Regions from separate parts of the Homo sapiens genome. Here regions 1 and 2 are each linked to region 3. Evidence: fine-mapped QTL for protein levels in blood plasma. A gene starts in region 3. Each other region holds a variant in brackets. All regions are shown on one strand. Distances are between the middles of the regions.

Evidence for each region. PIP is the chance, under the fine-mapping model, that this variant and not a neighbour inherited with it causes the effect. The UK Biobank Pharma Proteomics Project read protein levels with antibody pairs (Olink). The fine-mapping took linkage between variants from a reference panel, not from the people measured, so its PIPs are less certain.
Region 1: its variant is fine-mapped to the plasma level of the LRRN1 protein (UK Biobank, PIP above 0.99).
Region 2: its variant is fine-mapped to the plasma level of the LRRN1 protein (UK Biobank, PIP above 0.99). The variant lies in the coding sequence of LRRN1. If it changes the protein, the assay may bind it differently, which can mimic a change of level.

The regions. Positions count from the first base shown.
Region 1 is chr3:3,761,883-3,772,593 of GRCh38, reverse strand. All of the region lies in intron 5 of LOC100130207 (a long non-coding RNA gene), which reads left to right. Among named protein-coding and RNA genes, the nearest start is that of LRRN1, 32 kb to the left of the region's middle. The variant C/T (reference allele first, on the strand shown) is at 6,500.
Region 2 is chr3:3,840,251-3,850,961 of GRCh38, reverse strand. LRRN1 (leucine rich repeat neuronal 1) reads right to left here. Exons shown (of 2, transcript NM_020873.7): 2 at 1,128-6,598. The coding sequence starts at 6,320. The coding sequence ends at 4,170. Among named protein-coding and RNA genes, the nearest start is that of LRRN1, 46 kb to the right of the region's middle. The variant G/A (reference allele first, on the strand shown) is at 5,768.
Region 3 is chr3:3,793,125-3,803,835 of GRCh38, reverse strand. It overlaps LRRN1 (leucine rich repeat neuronal 1), which reads right to left and starts at 4,405. Exons shown (of 2, transcript NM_020873.7): 1 at 3,917-4,405. LOC100130207 (a long non-coding RNA gene) reads left to right here and starts at 2,961. Exons shown (of 6, transcript NR_149025.1): 1 at 2,961-3,135. RefSeq lists silencers at 1,257-1,551, 4,085-4,194, 4,335-4,424, 4,435-4,504.

The sequences.
Region 1 (10,711 bases), 31 kb after region 3:
GATAAGAAAATTCTGCTTGCATTTACTATTTATGAGTTGTGGCTTCATATTGTCACGTGACCACATGATGCTTTGCTTTTAAGAACCTGCAAATGACATGAGATTCATTATTTTTTCATGTAAAGAGGATGATGGCAAGCTCTGCTGTGTAATACACAACCAGCCTATCACTCTTGCTCTAGAATTGATATTAACATTGTCCATTTAGAAATTAGTGGACTACACACCATATTCATGAACATAATATTTGACACACAGGCAATATTTGATGGATAGAGCGTTCAAGTGTTTAATTGCAGTACATGATTCATGGGAAAATCTTCAACTCTGAGTTATTTATTTCCTGGTACTAAACTCAGGAGCATAGTTTTCCAAGGAAAGCACACATCTAATAAGGAAACCCATTAGCTTTGTTCTCATATTTCTCCTCCAACAAGGGGGCTGCTACCATTTGTGCTGCTACGTTTGATTCAATTTCTCAGTGCAAGCAGAATGAAATTGAAATAGTCAAATAAGTTGGAGTAAATACTAAAAATTAACCTTATAGTAATCCAAAGTGTCCTAGAAAATAATTTATTTATTTATTTATTTTGAGACGGAGTCTCGCTCTGTCGCCGAGGCTGGAATGCAGTGGCGAATTTGTATGTATTTCTAAAAAGCCTTTCTTCTGGGGGGAAAAAAGTTTTGTGTTTCAGTCTGAAATACTGCTAATTGGAAACCCAGTCCTGTCATGGAAATGCTGCTATGTCCTGTTTTTTGCATACATTCAATGCTAATGTGTCTCTCCTGGCCTCAGCTTCAAGGAATGTCTTAAGCTATGAAATGATGAGCTTCCTCTCTTTTTGTTGGAAGCAATTCCACATTTCCTTGAATCAGTTTTTGGCTCAGGTTACTACTGCACAGTTATGACTATTTTTAGTGTTTTTTTTTTCTTTTATACTTTAACATGTTCCCCAGAATTATTCTAAAATAGCTGAATGATCATATAATTATTTTCTCTTCTTGTGAAATTCATCTTCCATTGCTTTTGGTGTTATCTCTGTTCTCTAAAACATTGAATAAAGGACATTCATTCATTCATTCATTCAACTATTGTCTACCACTGGAATTGGCGAACAGAGGCTTTCTGCCTGTATCTGTACCATTTGCAGGCTAAGAATGCTTTTTACATTTTTAAATGATTGGGAAAAAATTGAAAGAAGAGTAATATTTTGCGACACATGAAAATTACATGACATTCAAATTTCAGTGTCCATAAATGAGGTTTTATTGGAACAGGGCCACACTCATCTGTTTGCTATTGCTTATGGCTGCTCGTGGCCTGGAAAAACCTCATGGCCAGTCTAGTAACTCAGGACTTCTGCCTCCTTCTCATGGCTCCAAATTTACCAGCACTGCCTCAAGGGCTGTTGTTCCTATGATGTGCCACTGCCTTGATCTATTTCTCTCTGGTCTACCCAGCCCCTTTCATGTGATACCCCAGTAGGGCTCTGCATGACTTGAACCCAAATTTTCCTTTCAGGGTAGATCAGCAGCTCATCAGCTAGCTGTATCCACATCCCCATCGAGCCTCATCTGCTGGTTTGGCATCCCACATACTCTCTGTCTGGAAGGCGAGCTTGGACAATGATGAAATAAAAGTTACTATTTAAAAAAAAAAAAAAGAGAGAAATGGCTCTCAAGTTGAATTTCTCTAATCTTGCATTTGTTTAGCTGATTTTTTTTGAAGCTTAAAGGTAGGAGCTTACTTTCATAATTGTTAAATTTCTTCTGATTAGTTTTGGCCCAGTATAGCTGTCTGTGGAGATGTTTTTGAAACTTTATTTTCTTGGCCATTATACTGCTGTCTTTCTTAGAGTTGTCTGTTCTAAAGATTTTTTTGTTTGTTTGTTTGTTTGTTTTGCAGACATGTGTTCTGCATTTTAATCTGATGTATTGATCAAATGTTTAAGAGCAGTGATCCCTAAACAGAACTTTGTGTCACTATCCGAGAGACTTCTCTCCAATTCAATATTAATCTATTAAGTAACATTCATTAGGAATGATTTTTTAAATAAATGCTAATATCCATAACAATACGTGATTATAGAAGATTGTCATATGTTTTATAAAATTAAGATAAACTGTGTCTAAGCCCTTCCTTTGCTCTAAAAGCTTAGAAGTTCTCTTCAGGCTCTCGGTGAATATAGCAGAGCCAAAAGAGAAATTTTTGGAGTCAGAGCAGAGTTCAAACTCTGTGTCTTCCACTTCATCTAGGGAAGGGCTTCTCTACACCTCAGTGTGGTGGTGAGGGTTCTGTGGAATGAGGGGTACGCTAATAAAGCAATTACATACACACATGGCATTACTAATAGATTCTCCTATAAATGGTAGCTTTAATTATTACCAGTAATAAAATTATAAAGAAAGAAATGAGGTTAGCTTAGGGCAACTTATTCTCAGTAAATTCACACTGGCATCCAGTGGAGAAGAAATTTGTTTCTAAATATCCATATATCATTTTTTGATCATTGGTTCTTGTGGTTTGCATGGGTTTAATATCATGTATACTGTCCTGGGGTTTCTGCCGTCTATTCTTGGCTAAAGTTTGTTATCCCACATTTCTGACTCCAGTCCTTGTCAAATCTCCTATATACTGAAATTCTTAAATATTACTAATGGTCTTTTTATTTTCAGACCCCCTAGTCCTGCGTATAATTTTTTTGAGCATGTGAATATGAACACATGGAAGCAGCCAGATATTTCTGTATAATCTCCTGTGAGGCTTCTCTTCAGCTGAAAAATTGGATATGGGGTTAAGAGCTCTGGATCAGGAGTAAAAACCTCTAAATACTGGTGTTAATTTGCTTCTTAACTAGCTGTGTGACCTGAGATGGGCTGTTTAACCTCTCTTAACACTAGTTTTATTCCTTGGTAAAAATAATTGGTTTCTACCAGATGCTGTCCACGAGTTCCTTCTTGTTCTAAAATCTCATAATCATAAGCAATCTATTCAGAATATAAGAGAAACCCTTTGAAATGTTTATAGGGAGGGAACATGCATGGAACTATTCAGTAAACATACAAGTTTCCTGTAATGACTGAGAAAATTGTGGTGGCATGTATATTCTGTAGGAATTCAGAGAAGAGAGGGATTTATGGGTGTCATATTTTTGGGAATGGATTATCTGGAAGAAGTATAACCAAAAGAGAGAATAGAGATGGAAAAGGGTTGATATCGGAGATTGTTTTTAATTCTTGCAAAATGAAGATAAACTGTATCTAAGCTCTTCCCTTGCTCCAGAAGCTTAGAAGTTCTCTTCATGCTGTCTGTGAGTATAGCAGAGTCAAAAGAGAAATTTTTGGAGTCATACAGACCTTGGTTCAAACTCTGTGTCTTCCATTTCATCTAGGGAAGTGCTTCTCTACACCTCAGTGTGGTGGTGAGGGTTCCGTGGAATGAGGGGTGCGTCAATAAAGCAATTACATCTTGTTGATGTTTTAATCCTCTCCAGGATGAATGTTAGTATAAGATGGCTGCCGACCACTCTTTAGAATACTGCCTTGACCTGATCTCAGAAATGGGCAAGATGGTGCCAATTATTTCCGAGCACACCATTTTGAGACAATATATAATTTTAGTTGGAGTGAAACAACATTCAACAAGTATAGCTGTTTTGAAGTGGTCCTCTGGCCTCAGAAAATTTCTGAGTATTTCTTTTTAGCAACTTTTGAAGGCAAACAACTCAGATAATTGCTACTAAGTTTTTGTTTCTTAATGTTCAATCAAGGTTGAGAGAAAAAACTGTGGAGTAGTAGATGGCATCAGCTTAGGGTGCTCTTTTGAGGGATGCAATGAAATATGATGGTTGGGCATATAGGTTCTGGACACACTGGTTTTAACTGAATAAAGTTAGAGAAGTAACTTAACTTTTTTACCTCAGTTTCTTCATTTTTAAAATGGCCTTAATATAAAACCCATCACTATTTTGTTAGGGTGAAATGTGTTATTACCTACAGAGCTTACACTAGTTGTTGGATTAAAGTAAATGCCTACTAAATCTCATTTATTATTATTCTTAGAGTTTTTGTATGCTCCCACAAATGCATTCACATGTCGTTAAAAGAAAACAGGACTTTATGAAAACTGATGAAACATACTTATGAAATAGTATGAAATGAAAAGGAGAAATGTGAAAAATTCTGGGGGTTTCTCCAGGCATAAATTATGATACATGGGACCATTATATATCCTCCTTTATGTATAGGAGGAATGACTGGCCTCTCTGACAGTCAGTCCCATCACATCTCCTTACTTTTTGAATTGAAAATTGTTATGCAATTTTTAAAAAAGATCTTAGAATTTTGAGTGACCTCTCTGGACCTTAGAAATCATTGTATCATATGACTCTAATCAGTGATTTTATCATTTAAGATTAATTTGTTTATTATCATTGGAATGTCAAAATCTAAACATCGTTTTGCCTAACTTGTGAATTCATTTTAGTAGATCAACTGTGTAAAGGATTTCATTATACAATAAAATAATAGGAAATCTGTTTTAAAATGATTAAAAGGATTAGCTAAAGATGAATGTATTCCTCTAGGAGTTTCTGGCAGAAAAAAAAAAACACATTATTCCCATTAAATGGGTGTAATAGATCTTCCTCTTTCAGAATTTCTGCAACTCTTTCATCTTGCATTAACTCAGCTGTGGAAATCAACACCCAAAGGATGTAGTAGGGTGAGACATAACATGTGGGAATGAAGAAAGCATAAAAGGCATTTAAAAAACTAGGGGTACTGAGTAGAAAATTCATCTGCTACTGCAGGGAATCAACTAACTCATAAAGTGCTTCGTGCATTCTTCATTCTGTAGCAGAATTAAAAGCTAGTTCTTCAACTCTTTGTTTTCTTTTTGAAGGCTTCTGACAATCAATTCTCTGTCCACTCTTTTTTTTCCTCTCTCTCCATAACAATTGTTACTGGGGACAAAATAGGGTGCTGGAGGGGAACAGTAAAAAGAAATAATGGTTTGAACTTAGTTCAGTGTACGTTTAGTATAAGGAAGGAAAGCTCTTGGATGGTGAAGAGTGCTTATGCAGTGAAAGGCTCTTTGCTTGGTATATTTAAAATGGGATTAAGTAAAGTACTAGAAAACACATGCCATGCAACAATGCCACTTTGGCAGGAAGATGGCTTAGAGGCCTCCATAGAGGTTTTCCATCTTAAAGTTCTCTATTTTGGTAGCACAAGACATTAGTTCATCAAATGGTGGAGTGGAAATATTGTTTGCTTATGCAAACCGGCTAGATTTGAAGAATTGAAAACACAGCCAATAAGGAGCTACGACACAATGGTTTGTGTACAAAACTAAAAGACCTTGGTTTCACAGTGAGCCTCTTGCTGGCTGCCAGGCTTAGTTCTCTTCCAGGTAGGAAGTCACCTGTGAATTGATTAAATGTGGATAGACTCAACTTTGTTTATAGAGTTGGATGACACTGTAGAGAAGACACATGCAAGTATTTGTCACCAAAGTATTTATTTGTCAATCATTCTCTACTGTCTTTTTTTTTTCCCTCTTGAAATACAACTTGGCCTTCTCTGCAAAACCCATTTTTTTCTACTTGAAGGACAGATCATAGTTGAAAAGACACAACAAATTCCACATACTATCCTTCCACAAAAGGATTCAAAACCACTGAGTATCATGGAAAACAAATTTTTATAACCTTTTCAAATGTTTTGACTTGTAACATCCTTATGTTGGACTTAATTTTCACCTCCTGCCTGATTATCCATCTTCACCTTGACAGGAAGAGCGTGTTCTGCTCTGTGATCTTCTCTCTTAAAATGAGTGTGAAAAGTAAAGGCCACCTGTTACCATTTAGAAGTACAGTTTTTCTTTAAATCCACTTGACATTTCAAGCCTTCACATTTGCTACTTTGCAATAACATTTTCCTTTATGGACTATGTGGTTTCTAGAATGGTGCCATGTGGGTCAAAATCTAGCCAGGAATGAATGGTGTTAAAATCCCTAAGCTTGAGGTTGTTTTAGGTTTTCATCTCCTACAGGGGAAAGATTATACTATGTCCTTATGCAGAAATACATGAAGCAGATTTCTTCTTATATACCAGGTCTGATGAGTTGGAAATGACTGCCTGGATGGCTGCATTGAGATTGGCTATTTATGGACAGCCAAGAAAAAGTCTGCACCAATTTGGGATGTGTGTCCTGGGTTAGGGGTTGGGCAGTGTCCTGTATTAGCCTTTCCTTCTTTAGAAGCCTCTTCCAGGATGTCACTGCTATACTACACACCCCCACATTTTTAGCTGAGAAAGTAGCATGGCCATGGGTGTGTGGCAACAACTTCTGCCCTGCTCCTTCCTCCTCTTTCCCCTATATACTGCCTTAGACTGATGGATATTCGATCCCTGTGCATTTTCCAAACAAAGAGGGACAATTACTGGCCTGGATTGAAAAGCCCAGGCAATGTGATATGTGCTCATCAAGATAAA[C/T]ATATATCTGCAAGCCTTCCCTCTGAGCCTTAGGGGGGTCTTAGTCACCAAAGAAGTGCAGGTTGCAGCAGTATTTGCTCTTGGTGAATTTTCAGAGGCTAGGGTAATTCCACAGCCTGTAAATGGAGACAAGCTTCAGGCTGCAGACTGGGCAGCAGTTGTGGGCAGATAAGAGTGTGTCGTTCCATGCCAGAGGTTAATGGGAATTGTCAGTGTGGTGGTGATTTTTCCAATCCTTTGTTCTCATTTTGACAGAGGTTGTGGTCTGAGCCAAACCTAGGATCCTATTTCCAAGAACACCTGTTGCTTCATGGATCAAATGTAAGAGATCCTTCTTGGGAACTCCTATTCCAAATAGCACCATGTCTGTCCGTCGCATACTGTCTACATTCCTGACATACGCTTTCCCCTGGCTGAGCCTTTGGTCACCAAATGGCTAATCTCTTTGCTGCATGTTGTTTTCTTGCAAAGCTTTAAAAATATTTATTTCCTTTTTGTTTCTGAGTAGTATATAAATATACCTAGAAATATATTTCAAGTCAGCACTTAAGTCTCTCTGCCGGCTTTAGCAGAGAGTTCTGTGTAATAATAATCCGTGAAGTAATCAAAGTTCAAGTTTATTTTAATATTTATATTTAGAATACAATCAATCAAATGCACATAAACACACCCACTCAGTACCCAAGTCTCCTCTCTCTCCATGACCGGTCTTCATGTGAGTCCAAACCCGGGAAAACCTGGCCCCTGAAATTATAAATCATTTGTACCCAGTCACTGAATGACTTGCATTAGTTTTCAGTAGATTTTTTTTCCTTCAGCTTATCTGAATAGCTGCAAATTACTTCTATTATTTTTAAAATGAAAATATTTAGTGGACCAATCTATAACATGACAGGTTCCATTTAGCCTAAAGAGAGCAATTTACAATAATAAGATCGTTTCACCTGGAAAAGAGAAAGGGCATCTTGAGAAAGTAAAAAGTCTTGTTGGCTTTGTTTTAAAGGTATTAGCATTGTGTTATTTGTTATCTCCTACAATAATGCCATATCCCACTTATTGAGTGTTCACCATGTGCCAAGCGTTGAGTTAATTTTGCATGCATGATCAGACTTAATCTTCACGGAAATTCCTGAGGCAGTTATAGATTTCTAGTTGATGGATGAAGATACTGAGTTGGAGTGAGAAAGGTGATAAAGCAGCTTACCAGAGGTCACACAGACAAGACGTTGAACTAGAATTTGAACTTAGGTCTTTCTGCTTCCAATGTCCTTGTTCTTTCCTGCTTCCCAATAAAGCAAAAGACCTGGCCTTCGAGCAAACAGTGTTGAGAGATCTCTTTCCAATTATTTAATATCTCAAGTCTTCTTAGTTTTCTGGGCTTGCCTAAGATCTTGAATATAAGTGTCCCTAACAAAAACGAGCCCTTGGTGAGAAGGGTATAGTGAGGGTCCATATCTCCTGGCCATCTAACTCAAGACATTTTCTGGATTTCACCACCTCTTGATAGGAGGTATGACATTGGCAAACCATTTCATAAGACCTTCCTTCGATCACCCTTCCTAGCCACCTTCCATCCTGCCCTCTTTTGTTGCAAAACTCATCTGCAGAGACCAAATCCCTCCTTAACATTTTATTGCACATTGTTTTGTTTTTTATCATGTTTCCCCAAATAGAACCTCTGTCCCTGGAGAAGAAGACTTTATTTCACTCACTGTTGTATCCTCAGTACCTAGAATAGTGTCGTCCATAGTAAACCCTTGCTAAATATTTGTGGGATGAGGGAATGAAAACATAAGGCTTAGTTAGACGGTTCCATTTTCTTGTGCTCATAGGCATTTGAAATTTAGCCAAGAGCCTCTCTCTTTCACATAGCGTATATGATGAGCTGTGGATACATTTTTATGTACTCTCGGGTTTTTGTTTTATAAAATAATTTAATGCATCATTAGTATAGTAATGTTTCATATTCAGGACATATCTATCTGTAAGCCCTGTCCTTTTGAAAACTCAAGCCAATTTGTAATTAAATACGCTTCAGAAATATTGCTGTGATTTATCAAGCAACATCACAGAGCTTGAAAAACATGTTTTCCTCACCTACCCTCTCAAAATGCAAAAAAAAAAAAAAAAAAACCCCATAAAAGATCCATTCTGTTGCATTGCTTGAGCTTTCTGTGAAACCTTTGAAACATTCATTACATTTAGGCAGAATGTGTACATGTTATCTCATGTCAATAGGTCCAGATTTCCCAAGTCCAAAAGGTAGAGGAGAAGAAACTCATGCTTCTACCAGGTTTTGGTGGCTTTGAAGGAGAGAGGAAAAATAGTTCTAGGGTTTTCTGGCTTTGGCTATTCCCTCTGCACAGCAGGATGTTTAAGGATTGGGAGTCAGGCTGCATTACAAACCTTCACAGGAAGCACTATTTACAACGGTGTTAAGTGTCAAATGGTTAAGAAAGTCCATGAGATCTTGTTGCTGGAGAGCAAGCTAGGAAGAAAATCTTTTTATATTCCTAATGTTAATGGAAATGATCTTTCTTGCACTTGGATAAGGGGGGAAATATTTCCTCTTATTTTACTTGCAGAAAGGGGGGCAATTCCCATATTTCATAAAGCCAGTGCATATCAAGTGATCTTCCCTGCTTATGTAGATGACTTATTCTTTTTTTTTTTTGTTTTTTGTTTTTTTGAGACGGAGTCTCGCTCTGTCGCCCAGGCTGGAGTGCAGTGGCGTGATCTCAGCTCACTGCAAGCTCTGCCTCTTGGGTCCATGCCATTCTCCTGCTTCAGCCTCCTGAGTAGCTGGGAGTAGATGACTTATTCTGAAAGGATTTTTCTCAGCCTTTCAGCAGGACTAGACATTCCACTGCCTTTTCTCACCTCCCCATTGTAAGCTTTTGATGTGTGACTCCTTCAGAAAGATCCAAATTCTCATTGACTACTTTTAAGTTAAAGTGTTTACTTAACAGCAAATGATCAATGTTGAGCTAAACAGGGAAGAAATCATCTGTATAGTTACATTTCTTTATATCTCCCAGCACATGTTTGCCTATTTTAAATGCTAACGTGGCAAGCTATGTTGGATAAGCATTCTGGGGTGTCCATGTGTTCGTTATTTTGCAGCATAAAGTGGAGATACTCAATCTTCGAAAATTGCTTTCTGAGATTGGATACTGTATCGTGTCTCGTAACTCATATTTGTTCTTAATAAAAAGGCATTACCCGAGGAATATTCTTGTTATTGCTGGATCAACTCGTTACGAGAAAAGTGGGTTAAGATATATTGACATTTATTCTTTTGGGAAAAGCTGTTCGTGTGTGTGTGTGTGTGTGTGTGTGTGTGTATGTGTTTATTATGCAGCTATTTAACAGTTAGATTGATGTCTTTAGAAAAGGAATGGCTCTTTTACAAGAAAGTCAAGTGTTAAGGGCATGACATGTCAAGGAAGGCAGATCTGGATTTGATTTTTGACTTTAGTTTTCCAGCTTTGGGCAAGTACTTAATCCTGCTATGCCTCCACTTACTTCCTCATCTACGAAATTGGAAAAATAATAACACCAGGTTTAACACAGATTTAGTATGAAGTTTAAATAATTGATTTGTGTAAAGCACTTACTACAAAGCTGAGCACATACTAAGTCCTCAGTTTATGTTAACTTTCGTTATTAGTTCAGTTGGCAAGTGAACAGACAGTGATGCAGACCAGGATTTGGAAAGGGATGGTCAGTGCCCTGTGGGTCCTAATTAATTAATGTTACATCCCCAGGGAAAACTGCTTTGAGTCCCTAAGTTAAGGTAAGCAGCCTCTGGTATACACTTTCATGGCATCTTGTACTTTTTTCTTTATCACAGTTTTAAGACATTATTGGTATGATTATCCACCTAGGGGCTGATAGGGGATGAAAGGCACCCTATCTATTTGGTGCACTGTCCACAGTGCCTGAAACAGAGTGGATGCTCAAACCCATTTGGTGAGTGGACGGACGCATTCAACAAAGAGGTATGAGGAGACCTTGTGTCGCCAGGACCTTCGTAAATGAATGAATGAAGGAAGGAAGGAAAAGAAGGAAAGAAGGAAGGAAGGAAGGAAGGAGGAAAGAGAGGGAAGGAAGGAACTCTCCTGACTTATCTGGCTGCTCTTTTTTTGTGTCCTATCCTGGCTCTTTCTACTTTGCTTGATGTCTAATTGTATTTAGAGTATTTTAGATGTG
Region 2 (10,711 bases), 47 kb before region 3:
GGGCAAATGCATAATGCCACTTTAATGTCTTACGGCATCCATATAAACTGGGGAGGGGGACTGGATGATTTCCTAAATATAAACACATCCACAAACTCCACAATTTGGTAATTATGCAAGAGCCATTGTCTGGCTGTTCCCTGTGTTTTCAGGCATGTCAGGTACCCTTGCAAATTGCTCAGTTTATATGAACTTCACATTTCCGCATTTAAGCTTTGGAGCTAAACACTTGAGTTTGTCATTAATTTTATAAAAGCTTTCCATGGTTTCCTGCTAAGGAAAGAGTTTGGTGTCTTCTCCACAAAAATCTATACATTTCAAAATTTTAGGAGTGTGTAACAGAGAATAGTATGGGGGAGTTCAAGATTAGAATTAAAATTTAGCCTGATATAAGTATAGTTTTGGAATGTACCTCAAGATTCCCAGCATATAAGGTTTCTTAAAGAAGAAAAGATAAATAAATTTGAAGACATAAAGAAAGCCTTCATTGTCATCTCCCGCCGTCAAGTCTCCTAGGAATTCTTTAATATGAGAAACCCATTTAGTTCTGTTTACCTGTTCTGGGCAATGTTGAACCAGCAGACATAAAAATCCTTAGTTCCCTCAGCATCTCCTTTTTACTAAAGAAGCTGGTATCAGTGCTTATGGGGGAAGTGGGGGTTGGGGCAGGGGAACTGTCCACACCAGATTAGATCAAGTCCTGCAGAGATTCCAGGCCAAAATTATTCTAGACCTCCGGATGGTGATTCTGAATCACCAATCTTTAAAGAAACATTTTTTTTTCTTCCAAGCTAATCCCTTTTGAATAACAATAAAAAAGTCTATTTGCAAGCAAGGCGAGAGTGAAAGAACTGAGGTGAAGAAAGCATTTCCAGTTGTACTTAGAATGCTTCAGAAGTAGTTACATTTCCCTTTCCAGTGAATAGAAAGGGAAAAAGTGTGGTTTTTCCCAGCAAACTGTTGGAGATATAAAATGCTTCCCCCTACCCCACCAATGGTGAAAACAGTAATAAAGAAAAGAAAATGCCTTGGAAAATGAATACAGAAATAGAAAACAAACACCAAGTAAAGGGTTGACTATGGCGTCCTTAGCAAACAAATGAATGATTGAATAAATAGAAACCACATGAGAGAAAATATGCACTTTGATATTGTTTGCAAAAAAATAGAGATGATTCCTTTTTGCCAAATCAGAAACACTGACAATCAAACATTACATTTGTTTTTATATCCATGGCATCAGTTCAATTTTTCATTAATTAAATGAGCAAGTTAGGGAATGCCTGTTTTAAGAAACTGCTCCAAAAATAACCTTGAAAAATCAGGTTAGAGATACACTATATACCCTGAAGGCAGCAGAAAGCAAAAGGGAAAATATGAAATTAGAAAGTGACCTATAATAACCACTTCACTGTTAAAGGTGACATAACATTCATTATCCATCAGGACCTAGTTTGAGGTCTAATTTCACTGGCTGTCTAATTTATGAAATTAAATACAAATGAGAAAATACTTGGCCAAGGAAAAAAGTACTCTATCATTTTGTTTTCTATCAGCTGAAAATCAGCTCATTAGCACAGACAGGGAAAAGTAAGTTCCAGTACTTTACTGAAGAAAAATGTAAAAGGGGTTTTTCCCCCCAAACTGGGCTGGCAGAAGATATTGTTGATGAAAAATCTTAGATTTCCCGGTGCTTGCTATATCTTCAGAATGGAGAAACGGCTGAGGTTTTTCCCTTCATTTATTGCACCCGTATTTAAGTGCTCATTCTGTGTAAGTTCAAATGTTTGCTTTATGGGCCGAATGAAACCTCGCAGATTTGCAATTGCAGGCTGCTGAGGGTCTAATGCATCAGTGCCATCCATTTTCATGGTTCACAGATGAACAGGAAAGTTGTAACATGGTCCATTACTCTGCAGACGTTTGAAGACAAGAATTCCTCAAGGGAAACACCTCAAGTTTGCATTCAACGCAGCTCCAATTCTCTGTGTTTCCCATACATACTTTGCAATACTAACAGTAGAGACACCGTCTGATCTGCCCTGTGCTAAAATGTATCCTGAGTAAATGGGAACTTGAGGATGTACTGCATTTTTGAAGCAGGGGCACTAGAGGTTATTCAGAACTGCAAAAGAGGGGCCCTGCACAGGAACCTAACAGGCTGCCGGGCCTAGAACAATCAATGGAGTGCAGAGCGCTGAACTGGCAGGAGTCCGAACTGGGTAAGCTGCAAGCCCTCCCTGGGCCCAGGTTTTTCTCACCAATAAGTGAAGGCTTTGGGAAGGGATACCTCGAGCTCAGGTACTTATTTTTCTGTTGCAGCTCATTTGTTTCAAGATCTGAAATTCTGTTTGCCAAAACCCCTTAAGAATGGGAAGAAAGTGATTTTTTTTAATAAAGTGATTCACAAAAGCAAGATACTGCCAAAGAAAGAAATACCTCAACCTACATCACCTGGACTTTCTTTCTGCCAACTTCCTTGCTTTTGCTTGTCTGGCACCTGTCTGATGGAATGCTGTGTGCCTGGCGGCAGCTGCCTTTTGAAACAACCTTTATTTTCAAATGGGTTCTTCTTTACCTATTAAATCCCATCCCTCCCTCTGCCCTTTGTGGAACTGGCCTTCTACCTAAACCTAGTTCCATCTGCTCTAAATGTTACATGTTTCCTCTATAATCTTGAAACAATTCTCCAAAACTGTCTATATATATTTGGATGAAAAGTTTGAACTGTACGGAAGTTGTTTTGTTTTCTATTAATCATTTACTTGTCTCAGCAGATATTGCCACACAGATATAGAGACTAACACGGGTCTAAGCATATAGACAACTGTTAAAAAGAAATAACATGTCATACAGTTTGTGACACTCCACAGACGTTTTTGTACTTTGATGAAGAATGTGGATACTACAAAAGAAAATCAGGTTTTAACAAAACTCTTACAGAAATGACATATCCAATATATTCATATATATATACACACGCATTGTGTGTGACAGGTTGGGATGTGTGTGAGTATATATGAATATATTGGTGTATATATATATTTACCTTTATTTATGCATGGGATACAACAATACACCTTTTTTTCTTCATATGAACCACCCTCCCACTGCCCATTAGGTGCTAGTCAGTACTATTTAAAATACAGAAATCCTGTTCATTAAAATATCTTAATTAAAATAGACATTTCTTCCCTTAGAAAAAGAATTAAAACCTTTTAGGGCCTAGCTTTAAAAAGCAACATGCTACAGCTGATTTATTTTGGTAGTTGTTTTTATGGATGTGAAAAATATTACCACTGCAACTAGCAAGAACTATAAATGATACATTATTGCAAGTGTTCTAAAAAATCAGAACAAAACTAATTTATTATAGTTCTGTCTTCATTATACACCACGTGTTGGTGAGTTAAACACAACAAACTTGTCTTTTCTTTTAAAAGTGTCTACTAAAGATAAAAAGAATAAGATAACAATTAACATGTAGTTTGTTACATTAAAAAATCTGATATACATATTTCTATTGCCTGTTAGCTTGTTCTAAGCCTCTTTAACTATTACAACAAAAAAAAAAAAAAGGAAAGAAAAAGAAAATTCATTGTTTAAAGGCAAACATTCAATTCAGTTGATACAACATTACAGTACAGTCAACTAACATCATTCAACGAAGGTAACAAGTCTAGCCTTAGCTTCTTGAGTTAAAAGTCTATAGACCAGATTGCTACAAAAGTTTCAATGCTGCTTCAAAACCGTATGTTAGCTTTTTGGAGGACAAAGTACTTTCTACGGATGGCTTCAGAAGGGGTCATGCTACTGGTAAAAGCACAGGGGAACCCCATCCTGTCATTAATCATTTTATTGAGCACTGTAGTTAGAACAGCATTATTGAGTTTAGCACAACAACTAAAATAAAATAATAATATAATAACAATCATAATAATGATAAGAATAAAAACCAAACACAGACTGGAAGCCTAGAGTCGCTGGCAGCCGTGTCAAACCCTTGCGATACGCTATACTAAAAAAATTTGAAATATCCACCCGTCCTCTCCACTCTGCCACAAACTAGCAAAGTCAAAAATACAAAAGTCTTCAACTTGTTCACTTTTGCAGAATAAAGCAAAAACGTCTTTGTGCTCCTTACTACCAGAAGCAAAATATCCTCTGAGTTACCACATGTAATAGCTTCTGGATGTGTCGACCTGGGTTGGCTTGGTGTCTGCAGAACCATCTTTGTCTTTCTCGCTGTCACCTTCCCAGAGGTTAATGAGTGGTGGGTACAGCTCATTTAGTGGGATTGAAGAGGTTTTTTGCATATACTTTTTTAATGAGTGGTGGTAGTTTTTTCTCTTAAATCTTTTGGCAAAGTACACAGCAATGGACGCAAGGCTAATGACGGCAAACATAGACCCCATTACTGCAGCAAGGGCTGTACTGGTTTCTTGATCAGAGATGTCCACTGCGAAGGCGGCATTTTTGGTTGTGACATTTACGCATGACTTTTGAGTCTGCTGATGAATATTGGACACTGTGAGACACACTTCATAATCTGTGGAAGGCTGCAGATGCGTTAGGTTGTATTCATGGACATCGACTGGGACCCTGGCAGTATATGTTATGTGAGGGTTATCAATCTTCATGGTGGCAGACGACCATTTTAAGTTTGACGTCATGACATTGGAATTAACTTTCCAGGACACTAAGATGGAATGGGATTCTGTCTGCTTGACGTATATTTTTAGCACCTGGGTACCATCCAGAAGGGTCCCATTAACCTTAATTGTTGCCACCCGAGTGTCTGCCCCTTGGACATTCTGGGCAACACATGTGTATCTTCCTGAGTCTTCAATTTGTATGTTAGATATTTCCAAGGTACCTTCGCTACTTAGCTTGTATTTATCTGAAAGGGTTTCCACAGTTATCTTATTTCCAATGGGAGTGACCCAGTAAATTTCAGGTTCTGGCTCAGCCATGGCTCGACAGTCTAGGAAAACCGTCGTGCCGATATCCACGTTTAAACGATTTGGGAAGCTGTCGTGAGATATCATTGGGAGGCACTGTTCACTCGAATCCTGGATTAAAACTTCCTTCACCTGGTGCCCTTTATATTCGGGCGGCATGGCACAGAACATGGACAGGGGCTCCATGAAGCGGATGTTGGTTTTGTTGGAGTTAATCCAGTGGATCACACAGTCACACCTGAGGGGATTGCTATGGATACTGATCTCACGCAGATTGGGGAGGGATTCGACTGTCTTTTGGTAAATGGCATTCAAGGCATTGTTGTTCAGCATCAAGCTTTCCAGAGCAGGGACACTTCGGAAAGCCAAGCGGTGGATGTAAGAGAGTTTAGGGTTATTGGTGGCTTCCAGCTTTGTGAGTTCAGGCAAGTTATCCAGGGCATAGCGGTCGACAGAAACGAGCTCGCCCATATTGTTGATTCCCAGTTCTTTTAACCGAAGCATATTTTTGAAGTCCCCTTCTTGGATTTTGTGAATGGGGTTTTTGTTGAGGTCTAAGAATTTCAAATTTGGAACTTTTTGCAGGGCAAGTTGAGGGACTTTAACCAGTTTGTTATCATAAAAAGACAGGCTCTCAAGGCTATCCAGACCCACCAAAGCATTTCCAGGAATATCAGTGAGATACATTCCTGCCAAAACTAAGCTTCTCAAATTTGCGAGGGGTTTGAAGTTCATATCCAGAATTCCAATCACAGGGTTTTCTCCGATCATGAGAATTTCCAGGTTGGGTGTAGAATCAAACCAGC[G/A]ACTATCAATAACTTTCAATTTGTTGGAGTTCAGGTGGAGCCTTAATAGATTTTTTAAGCCTGCAAAAGCATGAGCAGAAATAGTGCTAATTTGGTTGTGGTTGATGTAGAGTTCTTGAAGGTTGCTGAGGTCTTGTAGACAGTAATCAGTCATCTCGGTAATCTGATTTTCCTCCAAATGCAGCGTTGTGAGCTGGGTTAGGTTTGCCAGCCCGACCTCCTTAATGTTAGTAAAGTTGTTTTGGGAGAAATCTAGTTCAGTCAAGTTGAAAAGCTGCTGCAGCTCATCCACAGTCTTTGCGATGTTATTGCTCTGTAAGAGAAGCACTTGTGTGTCACTAGAGAGGTTACTGGGAATCCTTGTTAAGCGGAGGTCATTGCAATCAACAGTGGTGGCTTCTCTGTAAGTTGACTGTGGGGTAAACCAGGGACGAATTTCACATACGCAAAGTTGTGGACACTCACTATTCTGTATGGAAGACTCGGTTAATGAAGTCATTAGTAGGCCCAGCACCAATTGGCAAGCTGCTATAACAAAGCTCATCCTAGCCATGCTGGCTTGCTGAGCAAGCTCAACTCCTGACACCCCAAAGTTTTAACAAAACGTGAACACTATATTGTGATATGTAGGACAGCGAGCAGAAAATGTAAACATTCAAGCAAAGTCTTGGTTGAGCTGTGTAGAATTCCAGAGTCCAAAGGGATGGTTTTCAGGAGTTTTCAAAAGGCAGAAAGCAACTTGGAGTCTTTTAACTGTGTCTCTCAATTCCAGGCATGTGCACAGGTCCGTGGCATGAATTATTTCAGCCAAATTGAAGTCTGGAGATGTGCCTGAAAATTAGATTAGGACAGATGTTATGCTTATTCCATATACTTTCTACATTATAGCCTTTCTTTTGTTTACTAAAAAGGCATAGTCACTCGCAAATCTAGTATTGAATACATTCAAAATCCATTGAAGATAACCAAATAAGCTTTTAAATTGTAGGACATTCTTACTATATCCCACTTACTATACTAAAACTAGTTTTAGAACTCCTTCACTTTTACAATTAAATTGAGATTCCATGTACCACTAGTCATATATGACTGTGTACATTTGTATGTATACACATGTAAAGTCACTAAACATGCACACACACACACACAAATGCACACACTCATACATACTTAATAGGAACACTAAGAAAAAGCCTGCAGATGTCTTTTCTTTAAAAACAAAGATGTCTTTAGAAACTACATGTATTTATAGCTCCAAAAAATTAAAAGTTCATTCCTAGTGAAAGCAAAACATGAAAGGTAGTTTATTAAAGACTCAAAGCTAATTTTTAGTTATTTACATTTTAGTTACTACCTCATTTGTCTCCTGGAAGTCTTTCTTTTCTAAATGCTACATTCTGCAGACATATTCAGCCAATGCTTTTCTAGCTCAGTTATTCCTATGCAAAAAGTTAATTTAATATCCTACAACATGGATGAAAATATCAAAAACATGCTTGAAAGATGCCAGTCATAAAAGATCACCTATTTTATGATTCCACATATACAAAGTATCCAGAATAGGACAACCTGCAGGGACAGAAAGTAATTTAGTAGTTGCCTATGGCCAGGGGTATGGGGGGGGGTACAGTGGGAAGGGTGCTAAAGGCTACAAAGTATCTTTTTGAGATGATGAAAATATTCTAAAGATTGTGGTGATGGTTGCACAATTCTGTGAATATTCTAAATATTCACAGTTATTTAAATATTACATTTAACTTAACTAAAAAAGGAAAACATCAGTTTTGCCTATATTTGAATAGCCACATCAGATCTTGACTGACTGATAAAAGGACTTCATTCTGTCATACCATTGGTCTCCATTAAAAACACAAACATACACAATAGATGTATTTGTATCTCACACAGATGATCTCATTAATCTCGTGAGAATGTCACTCACTGCTTAATAACTGTTGACCATGAACATGTTTATATAACCTCTTGAAGCCTCAAGTATCTTCAGCTATAAAATGGGGTTGCTCATACAAGGACAGTTCTCATAGGATTATTGAGAAAATTAAGGGAATCTATGTAAAGTTCTTAGTGTAGTAGCTGACTCACATTATATGCTCACAAAAGTTAATAATTGTTATTCATCATCTTGTATCTCTAATCCATTTTAGTTTTAGCTAAATAGTGGTTGTCAGATGACAAGTAAAAGAAGGAAAGCTGAGGATATTTGTTTTTATTAACCATCATCTATTGGTTTCAATAAAATCCTCTGAAGTCAGGTATGTACTGCTCACCTGCTGGCAAAGATAATATTAGTAGTTAGTGGTTCCATTTTTTCTGCATTCCAATCAGGTGTAAAAAGCCATTATGGATCCAGTGTTTGTCTTGCTTTCCCAAACTGGGCCATTCACTTGCTAAAGTATTCGAAGCAGAGTTACATGTTTCCTGGTGTTTGTCTTGCTATAGTGCACTTGAGTCTTGAGCACTGAAGGAACTTCAGTGACTAGTGTATTCTTCACTTTCCTACTATAAGGACTTAATAAAATAGAGCATATGTGTTTAAACCCAGTGCTCAATACATAGCAAGCTCTGAATTCATGCTAGCTGCTATTATTAACCTTTCGACTTTGTAAAACGTAGTTATCTTTGTGACTAAGAGTATAAGAATACAAATGGCCAATACTAAAAGTTATGTATTTAATGAGTCATATTTTCACAGTAAGAAGGAAAAGTCCTACAACTTTTTTGTTATACAAAATATGAAAACTGCATTACTGGTCTAACAATAAAAAAAAAAAATTAAATCCAGATTCTGGCAAGTGTGAGACAGGAGTAGGAAATGATTGTATAAGTGTGTTGCCTGATACTAGATGCCTGCTAGTCTGTGGGAGGAAACATACATTTGGCATTCTTCTCCCTCCTCCCCATCTCCAAGTCTGGTTACTTTACCATTTATTATGTAGTCTTGTGCCACCATAAAGAAAGTTTGGCCAATGATGGACCGCATATACAATGGTAGTCCCATACAGTTGTATTAATAGTACCATATTTTTACTATACCCTTATGTTTCAATACACAAATACTTGCCATTGTGTTACAATTGCCCATTGACTTCAGGATAGTAACATGCTATACAGGTTTGCAGCCTAGGAGCAATAGGGTATATCATATAAGCCACATATATCATATAGGCTACATACCACCTAGGTTTATGTAAGTATACTCTATGACATTTGCACAATGACGGAATCACCTAATGACACATTTCTCAGAACACATCCCCATCATTAAGTGACATGCTTGTATTTGCAAAACTTTTCAGTATTATAAAACTAGTTGACTCTGACTTTTATCTGGAAATTCTATGAAATGAAAAAATACAGGCCGGGCGCGGTGGCTCACGCCTGTAATCCCAGCACTGTGGGAGGCTGGCAGGGGGCAGATCATGAGGTCAGGAGTTCGAGACCAACATGACCAACATGGTGAAACCCTGTCTCTACTAAAAATATAAAAATTAGCTAGGCGTGGTGGTACGTGCCTGTAATCCCAGCTACTCAGGGGCCTGAGGCAGGAGAATCGCTTGAACCTGGGAGGCAGAGGTTGCAGTGAGCCAAGATGGCGCCACTGCACTCCAGCCTGGGCAACAGAGCAAGACCCTGTCTTAAAAAAACAAAAGAAAAGAAAACATACCACAGAGAATAACATTTTTATTATTAACTCCACAAATTTATTTCACTCTTGTTTCTGTTTAGAGTAATCTTGAAACAGGTGCACTGGCCACAATACATTGTTAAGAAAACCTCTGCCACAGGTTATTTCTCAGTCATAACTCAAAATAGAAAACCAAAAGAATAAAGCTACCTTTCATAACTGAGACAGAATTTCAACTAATTTTTTTTTTTTTTTTTTGAGACAAAGTCTCGCTCTGTCGCCCAGGCTGGAGTGCAGTGGTGCGATCTCGGCTCACTGCAACCTCTGCCTCCCGGGTTTAAGCAATTCTCCTGCCTTAGCCTTGTGAGTAGCTGGGACTACAGGCACGTGCCACCACACCTAATTGTATTTTCAGTAGAGACAAGGTTTTGCCACATTAGCCAGGATGGTCTGGATCTCCTGACTTCGTTATCCGTCCACTTCGGCCTCCCAAAGTGCTGGGATTACAGGTGTGAGCCACCGCACCCAGCCTCAACTAATTTTTATGTTTCTATTGAATGTAAGGAAATGTACCAAGAAGTAAAATATGTATTAAAGTTGTGTGAGAGACTTCCAAAACAGTCTGTTAGTATTGAGAAATAGCCTTTATGGGGCTATAGGTTCAACATTATTATAGCTAATGCCCCCATTTTAGTTTAAATTATATGATTTGAGATAACTGTGTTGAAATGTTCAAATTTTTCTTTGACATACACACATACCTTTTTCAAGCAACTAACCAACCAATCAACCATGGAAACTCAGAATGTTAGAAATCAGATCAAGCACAGAGGAAGACATTTTTTTCTCCTACATTCTATAAGAATGTATGTATAAGAATTTCCTCTCCACATCCTAGAAGACATTCCTTTGGCAGCAAGGAATTAAACATCCTTAATAAAAAAGGAGATGTTTAAGATATTTCTATTTGTATTTAATTCTGAATTCTCTTTAGCAAATTTCACCAAACTTTTTTAATGTGACATTATACATAGAACAACTTTATTATAGAGTCCTTAAGCCATTTTAGATGTTTACAATGTATGGCATTTCTCAGGAGCTACTCGCCAATAGTGTTTAAATGTAAATCCATTATCACAACAAGAAAACTACAGACCAATATCCCTAATGCATACTGATGCAAAACTTCTCATATTAAAAAGATTATATACCATGAACAAGTTGGATTTATACCAGGAATGCAAGGAAGGTTCCATATGTGAAAAACTATCAGTATAATATGCCACATTAACAGAATG
Region 3 (10,711 bases):
TAAAAAGCAAACTTCACCTAAAAAGACCTTTAGAACAAATGGATCCCTTGGTCACTAAAGTATTGAATTTTACAGATAGGGTTTAACTTTTATCTCTATTCTGTACTTTGAGCCAAAACAAGAGAGAATAAATGTTTTTCTGACTTCATCCATATAATTTCATCCTGAATTAAATATTAATCAGAGCTCTATTCATGAGTTAAAGATACTTTCATTGTTCCCAGAAACATATGATTCTAAATGATCATATGATTCTACAATGGAATTTGCTTTATCTCCAGATTGGCTTAACCCAAAACAGATGTTCAGCATAATTTTTTAAAATTAAATACAATATTTGAATAACCTGACATTAGTGCTGAAATGAATCATTCGGGGAACTATTATTTTGTAACTTAAAAATAAATTTTAAGTAAGCATTGTGCAAGTCTCGTAAAACTGGCATCTGCATCCTATAATTTACCATATTTTATTTATGACTTATGGCCTACTTATGGTGGTATAAAAAGCCCACCATTCTGATTATTTATCATTATTATTTATATTCCACTGGCTTGGGAAGTAGCAATATAACTCCGTAGAGACCGATTTTCTTTAGTACCTAGTATATTCCCATGAGTGTCACTGCTTTAGAATATGTGGTAATGGCTCTAGCAGTTTAGATCAAGAAGGTGGCCTTAGCACAGACTAACCAGAGAGAGATCAATGGTTGAGTTTTTCCTTGCTTTCCCAGAATTTCAGACATTAACCAGAGCTAGCTGAGGTTATGTTTTAGAAACACAGTCTGCAGTTGGATCTGGTCTTGAGATCTTTTATTTAGCAGAATGATCCTTTTCTAATAATTAAACACTTTATCAGTTTTATTTACCAAGGAATGAGTTCTAATCTGTCCTTTCATTAGACTTGCAGAATAACGATTACACAGGCAGGTTAATTGCCAAAGATAAGGTTTCACAAATGTGAGGGTCATTTTTAACTTACCAGGTTTCAAAAATATCTAGATAACTTTACAACAAAATGGTTTATAGTCTAGAAATGTCAAGTTTATTTTAAGTTACCCTTCAACTCTATCAGGAAGACATCAGGCGTGTAGAGTCAAATTAAGAGTTTATTAGAATGATTTGTTACTTTCTGACTTCTATATAGCTCTAAGACACAAAATGCAAACTTGGCTATAACATTTTCTTACTTAAATTTGATTCAATTCATTTTTCCCCATCCTGTGAAAATATTGCCTTATGTATAAAAGGCACTGAACCTGCAAAAATAACTTAAAGGAACATGTAAAATAGCAGACTAACATCTGTTGTCCACCCCTCCCCCGAAACACTGAGCCCTCCAAAACAATGTTGTCTTTTTTTTCTGGCGGGGGTTGGGGGGGTGTTGTATTTTAATGTCCCTTTCAGTGAATATATAGAATACTGGGGCAAATGCTGTTCCGTGAATAGGTTCTTTTTCCCTTCAACAGTGTTTGAGGTTGACAAAAGAAGAGGCCACTGGGGCTGGTTAGTCGTAGGTATTAATATAATCGCCTGCCTCACGTGCGGCCCACACTGCCTGCCTTTTGTTCAGCTGTCGCACAACGCCAAGAGGTGAACAGTGCAGTGTGGTCACGCAGCTAATGTTAGACACGGCAGAAAGGCCCTTGCTCCAGAGTCTACTGCACGACTACCTCCCCGTTCACTGTTATGTGACCTGAAAACCACTCGGGTAACTAGGGTTGGGACAGTTGCATCACCTGCAGTTCTACAGTTTGGTGCCTTAAGAACCGAAATGACTTTGGCTAGACAGTGGACATTCTCAGCTAGACAGTGGACATTCTCAGGAAATCTTCATGTCGGTCAACGACAACGATCTTCTACTATAATGAATAGCTCTGAAGATGAGGACCAAATTTGAGCAAGAGTCAAATTATTAAAAGAAAACTCGAAAAGTTGAGGGGTCAATTCAGAAATCACTTCAAGCCGCCAGAAGTGGGTTAAAGTTACTGTCTGCTTCACACAAACCTTTTCCTAACTAGCTTAGAATATCCAGCTTGAATATTGCACGAATATATACAGCCAGGTAAAGAGCAAGCAGCACTTTGAGCTTTCAATACAATAGCACTTAAAGAATTTGGCTCCTGAATAAAGGTGTCAGCAAACCATGGAATTCCCAAACAGAAAAACTCACACTGCGTCTTTATTCTCTTTTCTTAAGGTCTATTGTTAACTGAAGACTCCTTGTCTTTTCAAATTCCTTCATGTGAATGGATGAGGCCAGACATCTGCCAGGATCCGCTCACATTTGCATGCAAATCAGAGACTTCGGGACACATATGGCCCTGGAGCCAATAACACTTTTACTCTAGATTTATACTGATCAAAGTGCCTTCCTGAACTTTCCACTCCTCCAGCCCTAGCTTTTAAAAATGAAATAATGAGCCTATTCCACTAACATGATTTAGATTGTCATGGCAAGACAAAACAAAACATGTTGTCTTTTAGAAAATCCTCCACGCAAAAGCCAGAGTCGGCAGCACCTGTTCCCTCACCCAATTAGAATTCCACTTTTCCTTTACGATTTAGGTTTGGGAATGAAAATACTTACGGCGGGATGGGATTTAGACTCTTAGCCTTTGCCTGTGAGCTTCAAGTGCTTCAGAACCATTTGTACCCCGGCCAGTCGTTCACTCACGGCCAGGCTCTGTTCTTGGCGCTGGGGCCGCGGCGGTGGACACGGCAAGCGAGGTCCCCTTCTCCTGGATCCGGCATCCGGGCCGAAGCGCCTGGTCCGCGTTTCCGCGCGGGCTCCCCTGGAACCGTCCCGGGACACGCGGCCCTCTCGCTGCTGGACTTTTCCCCGAGCCCCAGCTTGCCAGGCAGGGACTCCCTGGGCGGGCGGCGGGGAAGCGCCGAGTCGGCGGCCGCCCACACCCCTCTCCACGCAGCACAAAGGACACTCGCCGGCAAACTTTCCTCGCTTCTGACCCGGGCCGAGCCGGGAACTCAGCGCCAGCTCTGTTCCTGGCGGGGCTGAGGCTTCCCTCACATTCCAGGCCACCTGGCAAACGTCCTGAGGCTGCCACTCCTTCTGGGCTCAAGGCTCACGGGCTGAGGTCTGTCCCCGCGTGGAGCTCAAGGCTCACGGGCTGAGGTCTGTCCCCGCGTGGAGCTCAAGGCTCACGGGCTGAGGTCTGTCCCCGCGTGGAGCTCAAGGCTCACGGGCTGAGGTCTGTCCCCGCGTGGAGCTCAAGGCTCACGGGCTGAGGTCTGTCCCCGCGTGGAGCTCAAGGCTCACGGGCTGAGGTCTGTCCCCGCGTGGACCGCCGAGAGTTCGGTAGATCCTTCCCAAGGCTCTGACTTCAATACTTTCAGTGCCTTGTCAATTATACCCCTTGCCCCTTTCTCTTACCAAGGCCACCGCCAAGACACCCTTTTTCTTTCCTCTCCCCGTCGCCCGCCACCTTCCTTGCCCTCCTCTTGGCCCTCTTTCCAGCTCCCTGGGCCCCCTTTCCGCGCTGCTCTCCAGCCCCAGCTGCCTTCCCCGGTTCACATCCCGGCAGCCCTCCTCCCTCCCCGTCCCCGGGCACCTCCCTCCCCTGGTCGGCCCCTGAAATCCAGCAGGCTCGGCTCCGGTCACTGCCTTTTTTTGCCTGTTTCTATCTGGCCTGCCTTCCCAACTATCGCTCTCCCACACCTTTTTTTTTTTTTTTTTGGCAAGGGGGACGGGGGGAAACGGGGCACTATATTCTCGTTTCCCGACTTCGTCATTTTCCCCAGCTCCGTGAGCCGCGCCCCCTCGTCCCCCTCAGGCCCGCGATCTTACCCTGAGGTTCCCCAGACCCCGTAGGGTCTCCCACGCCACCAAGTTTGCCTCGACTTCCCCTCGCTGCCTCCCACACCTCCTGCCGCGGCGCGGCCGGCCAGGGACTTACCCCGAGGCCCAGCTGGTGGGGGTGTTGGGGTGCGCGCGGACCCGGCACCCACGGCGGCGGCGGCGGCAGCAGCAGCAGGAGGAGGAGAAAGACGAGGAGGAGGAGGAGGACTAGCTGAGCGGCGCCTCCTTCCCAGCCCGCAGCGCGCACTGGCTCCTTGGGGCACCCCCGGGAGAGCACCAAGACCGGAGACTAGGCGGCGACACAGGCAACCGCTGCTGCACGGGGCTGGGCTCAGTCGGCTCTCAGAGGCCAGGGCAGGGGGAGGCAGGACTGGGAAGGAGGGTCGGAGAAGTGGGGTGCAGAGGGCGGGGCAGCGAGCGGCCAGGTCCGGAGGAAGGCGCCCCAGGCGCCTAGGGATGCCGCCGCCCGGGCTGACGCCGTCGGCCCCTCTCCCCGCCAGGCGGGCGCTTGCAGCCGCGGGCGCACGGGCCTCGCCTCGTTCACCGGCTCGTTGCCGGCGCCCGCGGTGCGCCCCGCTTTGTGCTCCCCGCAGCCGGCGTGCACCTGGTGTAAGCAAAGGCGGTCAGCTGATGGGCCGCGCGCGGATTGGCTGCTCCGCCGTCTCCTCCCCTCCCGCCCGACCCTCTTCGCGGCCTCCCGCCCCCGCCCTCGGCGCGGCCCCGTGCTGGGCACCATCTGTGGACCGCCCAACAAAGGCGCAGCGCGGCGGGGCTCGGGTGGCCGGGCCGCGGTCGCCGCTTTTTGTCTAGGGGACGGCAGGCTGCGGCTGGGCAGGGAGGCGAAGCGCACTGCCGGTTTTTAGCAAAAGACAGACCAAAAGAAAATACACGTCCGTGCTAGGAGGCCAGCTAGGCACAATGGGGCCCCATCTCTTTGCGGCGTAGAACTCGGGCTCGGGGGCTGAGAACCAGACACAGTTCGGCCTGGGGCTGTGGGAGCCAAGTTTCGGGGTGAAATCCGACCCTGCGTCTTAAAATACAGGGCGCGTCCTCGGGCTGTGTGTGCGCGCCCGGGGGCGTCCTCCGCAGACCTGGCCCGGGCCGGTGTCCCTGCCGCGGGAAGGAGGATTCGGACGCTTAACTCAGCGGCGAAGTCGCTTCCCATTGGAGGAGGCTTTCCGAAAACGTTTCTGAAACTTTGAAATTACAGCTTTCTGATTTGTGAGGGGTGGAAGTTGTGTTTAAACAGGCGGCGAGGGACTGAGAAGGCAGTGTTAAGTGGAGGTGTCTCCGAGGAAGGGGAGGAGGGTGGGGACGGAATAGGTCTTCGGAAACTGCGCGTGAACCTGCGTCTCAGCTTCAAAGTCGCCAGCCGGAAGCAGGGCTTCAGAAAAGCCTTGGCACCCTTTATTGGGGGAATCGGCTTTAAGCGAAAGCATCATTAGCCCCTCAGTACTGAACAACTTCTGGCAGAGGAACGTGGTGACATTTCATTATGATGTCTAAACTTAGAACTTCTGGAGAATTTGGAAGGATACATTATTCGAGAATCATCCTTTGGATTCTTCAAAGCCACAGGATACATTCAATGTCAGTAACCATATTCTTGATCCCTGTAACATTTATTGGCGTTTCGCTTAGGTCTCTGATAAATGTTTGACGTCTTTGTGTGTCTTCACACTTTGTTATCCTGAAACTGTGTCATGTAGACATAAATGGTCACAGTTTGTCTTAAAAGTCTTTAGGAAAAGGTGATACTAGCACTTGGGCTAGAAGGTCGTGCAGAGCAGAGGAAGAAAAAGGCCCACTGCTGTCTACAAATGAATGGGAAGATTTAAGATCTTTCAAAGCAAGTTGAGTCTAGACCCTTGCCCAAGTTTTGTAACATGATTTTGTCTCTTTCCCCCCTTTTCATGCAGATTATCCATGGAGTTAGCATGCAGATAGCATGGAGTTTGTCTGATAGAAGTTGGGCTCTGGTGGAAGTACGGAAATTGAATGGTCAGGGAAAGATAGAATGCAGGTTTCTTAGGGAGTCTCTATTAGGTTTCCAGCCTGCCTTCCTGGGAGTGGAAGAGAGATGAGGTTGTGCCCTTCAAGGAGGAGCTTTACAGAGGTAGGTCTTGGAGGAGCAGTCGGAGCAATTAATGATGGTGAGAGTTGCTCTTGGGAGGCCAGATCTAGAACAGCCTCCAGGTTTTGGAAGAGACTTCATGAGAATGGTGTGAGTCAGGGACCAAGGTGTGAATTTTGAAACCAGGCCAACACTGCTTAGGTCCCAGCCCTGCAATTTATGAGCTGTGTCCCTAATGGCAAGTCACTTTATCTCTTTAAGGCTTAATTTCCTTGGCTCTAAAGTAGGGTTAATATCAGTACTTATCCCAAAGGATTGTGATGGTTAAGTGGGAGTAAACATGTAAAATGCTTAGGACAGTGCTTAGTATATAGTAAGCATTCAACGACAGATGTAAGCTCTAGGCATTATTAGGCAGGTATTGAAGACTAAAACAAGACATCAATTCAGACAGGTGGGATAATGATTCCGCATGTGACAGAATATCTCAAAGGCACTAGCTGCTCCAGTGGAGGAAATGGACTCTGTCTCTCCACTGTTCGATTCATTTCTTTTCAAATTAGCATATCATTTATTTAAACTAATTTCCCTCTTCCCCAAGGCAAGAGTGAGAAAGGCAGCTTTTCCCATTTCTACTTGACCACTGCATGCATTTGGTTCCAGACAGAGAGAAGAGCATTATCATTAGGAAGAAATGTGTGTCAGGGATGGGGGAAGGAATTTGGGTGAGAGGATGGGGCTTGCTGTGGACAGAAGAGGAAAAATGAGCATGACAATTATGAAAGAGTCTGAAATGTGGTGTAATTATTAGAAATTTGCTGAATTGCCTGAATTGGTAATTGGTCCAAATTTTAGAAATTACCCTTTTTTAACTCTGCAAAGGGGTTTCGGGACTGTCTTGTTAACTGACACTTAAAAGCTCCTTGTCATTGGGATGGATGAAGAGGAAACACGCATTTTTGCATCATTGGACGAAGAGGAATCAATGAACCAGCATAACCAAATCTCTTACTTGCTTCTTGCTTAAAGAGCTCAAATCCATCTGAATTACTCCTAATGAGCTCACCCAGTCCTGGGATCCTGAATTTATTAGTTAGTAAAAAAGCACTTAATAGTTATTTATTAAGGTGTGGTAGAAGACCTTGGAATTTTTGAAGGAGAACGGAATTGGAGACAAGAGCCCAAGAGTTCCCAGGAGAGCAAGGTCTTATTGTTGATGTAAAGAGTTCTTGCCCCTCGATTGGCTGTGTTGAGACACTACAAACCCCTCTGGATTCCCCTACCAGCCCCTTGAGGTTCTTTAGCTTTGGTTTGAAGGAACATTATCATTGGTGTTAGCCTAATTGTACTGATCTATGTGGTAAATGAGGAAAAAAAAGAAAGATGAAACTTCAGAAGACAGTCGTATTTGAATAATCTTTAGAAGAACATCTGTATTTTGAAAAGAAAATTATCATATGCCTCTTAAAACTGCAATTTTTCAAAGTTGAAAATATGTCTCTCTCTAATTGAAATATTAATAGAGTACCGGTAGTCAGAGTTCTTTCCAATTTCTGAACTGAAATTATGATTTTAAAACAACCACCACCAAGCTCTTAGAGGGTGATGACTGTAGCTTAAAATTTTGTGACTATTGTGATCATTGTTAACTTTCATACCAAATGTATTGTTTCTCTAAGAATTTTTGACAATGAGTGGGTTTACTACATATACGTAGTTCCTGTTCTTCTCGGGTTTTGTTTGTTTGTTTGTTTGTTTACTGCATATGAAACATCCCAACACAAAAAAGGGATTAATTGACGTTTCTGTAATTAAAACTAGTTTTTGCATTTAAGCTTAAAAATTTGACATAGAACTAAAGTGACCAACCATCTTAGTTTGCCTGGGAATCTCCAGGTTTTAGTCCTAAAAATCTCAACATCTCAGGTCACACCTTAGTCTTGGATAAACCAAGATGGTGGGCGGTTCTAAATAGAACTAACATTAATAGGTTTATGGTGCTGTTACAATTTTAGTTGAGTTGCAGCTTTGCAGATATATCAAATAATGTTTTATTCCTGACTGAATAAAGGGTCCTGTTTCCACTTGTAGAACTTAGTTGTTGCAGAGATGTTGACAGTCATTGTATTGGTCCATTTTCATACTGCTATGAAGAAATACCCAAGACTGGGTAATTTATAAAGAAAAAGAGATTTAATGGACTCATAGTTCCCATGGCTAGGGAGGCCTCACAATCATGGCAGAAGGCAAAGGAGGAACACAGGCACATCTTACATGGCAGCAGGCAAGAGACCATGTGCAGGAGAACTGCCCCTTAGAAAACCATCAGATCTTGAGACTTATTCACTATCATGAGAACAGCACAGGAAAAACTCACCCTCGTGATGCAATTACCTCCCACTGGGTCCCTCCCACGACATGTGGGGATTATAGGAGCTACAATTCAAGATGAGATTTGGGTGGGGACACAGCCAAACCGTATCAGTCATCAAATCCAACTTCTTTATTTTGTAGATAAAGAAACTAAGCCCTAGAAGAGGAACTCTGCCAGTCTATTTACAAAGCCTGCACTGAAAGCTAGACCATATACTCTTTGGAGAGGGATGATGTGACCAGCTCATAGACTAGGGCCTATACCATGTAATAGGTACTCAAACTTTTTTAAAATAAATGAATCAATAAATGAATGTCTTTATGTAATCGGGTCACATTATTTCATGAGTATTTTCTTCATATCATTAAAAAGTCTTTGAAGCTATAATGCTCAATGGCTGCATAATTCTACCAACTTTTTGTTGGTGAGAAATAAGGACTCTCTCAATTATTTGCTATCACATATAATAAACAAACTTGTTTAAAATGCTATTTTGGTTATTGATCTATAGATATAAACTACACTTTGGATTATCAGGTTAACATATTCAACTTTTTCTGTTTCCTTACTGTTTACCTTTAGCCAGCCAAACGTTATTAAAAAATAAAAATATTTGTTTGCTTATGTAAAGATTTCGGTTGATAGAATTTTAGAATTTTCTTTGTTTTTAATTGTTTGCTCTCCATTCTGATTTCTCTTTTGTCTGTATAACAATAGTTAACATAAACTAAGAACTAACTCTGTGTCATTACATTACACTTAGTAGGGTTTTTTTTTTTTTGTATTGAGAGAGACAGTCTAGTGCAACGATTCAGAGCCAGAGCTCATGATTTGGGGTCCCTAGATTTACATTCCAGCCCAACACACTGTGTGAATTTGAACAATTTACTTAAGCTCTCTGTGCCTGTAATAGTACCTGTATTGTGGAGTTCTGTGAGACTTAAAGAGGTGCGTATGCAGCATACCTATGTAACAAAACTGTACATATACCCCCGGAGTCTAAAATAAAAGTTGAAAGAATAATAATAAAAAAGATGCTCAACATCACTAATCAGGGAAGTGCAAATCAAAACTACAATGAAATACTACCTCATACCCATTGGGATGGCTATTATACAAAAACAAAAACAAAAAACAAAAAACACCAGTGTTGGCGAGAATGTGGAGAAATTGGAACCTGATATGGTTTGGATTGGTGTACCCACCCAAATCTCATGTCGAATTGTAATCCCTAATGTTGGAGGTGGGGCCTGGTGGGAGGTGGGGCCTGGTGGGAGGTGATTGGATCATGGTAGTGGATCCTTCATGAATGGTTTAGCACCATCTCCCTAGAGCTGTTCTTGTGATAGGGTTCTCATGAGGTCTGGTTATATGAAAGTGTGTAGCACCTCCCGCGTCTCTTTCTTCCTCCTTCTCTGGCCATGTAAGACGTGCCTGCTTCCCCTTCACCTTCTGCCATGATTGAAAGTTTCTTGAGGCCTCCCCAGCCATGCTTCCTGTACAACCTGCAGAACCGTGAGCCAATTCAACCTCTTTTCTTTATACATTTCTCATTCTCGGGTATTTCTTTACAGTAGTGTGAGAACAGAATAATACAGAATACTTGTGCACTGTGGGTGGGACTATAAAATGATACAGCCACAGTAGAAAACAGTATGGGAGTCCCTCAGAAAATTAAAACTAAAATTACCATATGACCCAGCAATTTTACTTCTGACTGTGTGCCCAAAAGAACTGAAAGCAAGGTCTCAAAGAAGTATTTGTCCACCCACATACATAGCAGCATTACTCACAATAACTAAAACATGGAAGCAACCCAAATATCTATTGAGGGATGACTATATAAACGAAATGTGGTATATACATATGTATTAGTCTGTTTTCATGCTGCCGATAAAGACATACCTGAGACTGGGTAATTTATAAAGGAAAAGAGGTTTAATGGACTCACAGTTCCACGTGGCTGGGGAGACCTCATAATCATGGCGGAAAGTGAAAGGCACATCTTACGTGGCAGCAGACAAGAGAGAATTGAGAGCCAAGTGAAAGGGGCTTCCCCTTATAAAACCATCAGATCTCGTGAGACTTACTCACTACCACGAGAACAGTATGGGGGAACTGCCCCCATGATTCAATTATCTCCCACCAGGTCCCTCCCAGAACGTATGGGAATTATGGGACCTACAATTCAAGATGAGATTTGGGTGGGAACACAGCCACACCGTATCAACATACAATGGACTATTATTCAACTTTAAAAAGGAAATAAATTCTGACATACCCTACAACATGAATATGAAATGAGGACGTTGTATTAAATGGAGTAAGTCAGTTACAAAAAGACAAATACTGTATTATTGCACTTATATGAGATACTTAAAGTTGTCAAAATCATACAGAAAGTAGAACAGTGGTTACCAGGGCATGCAGAGAGCAGGGAATGT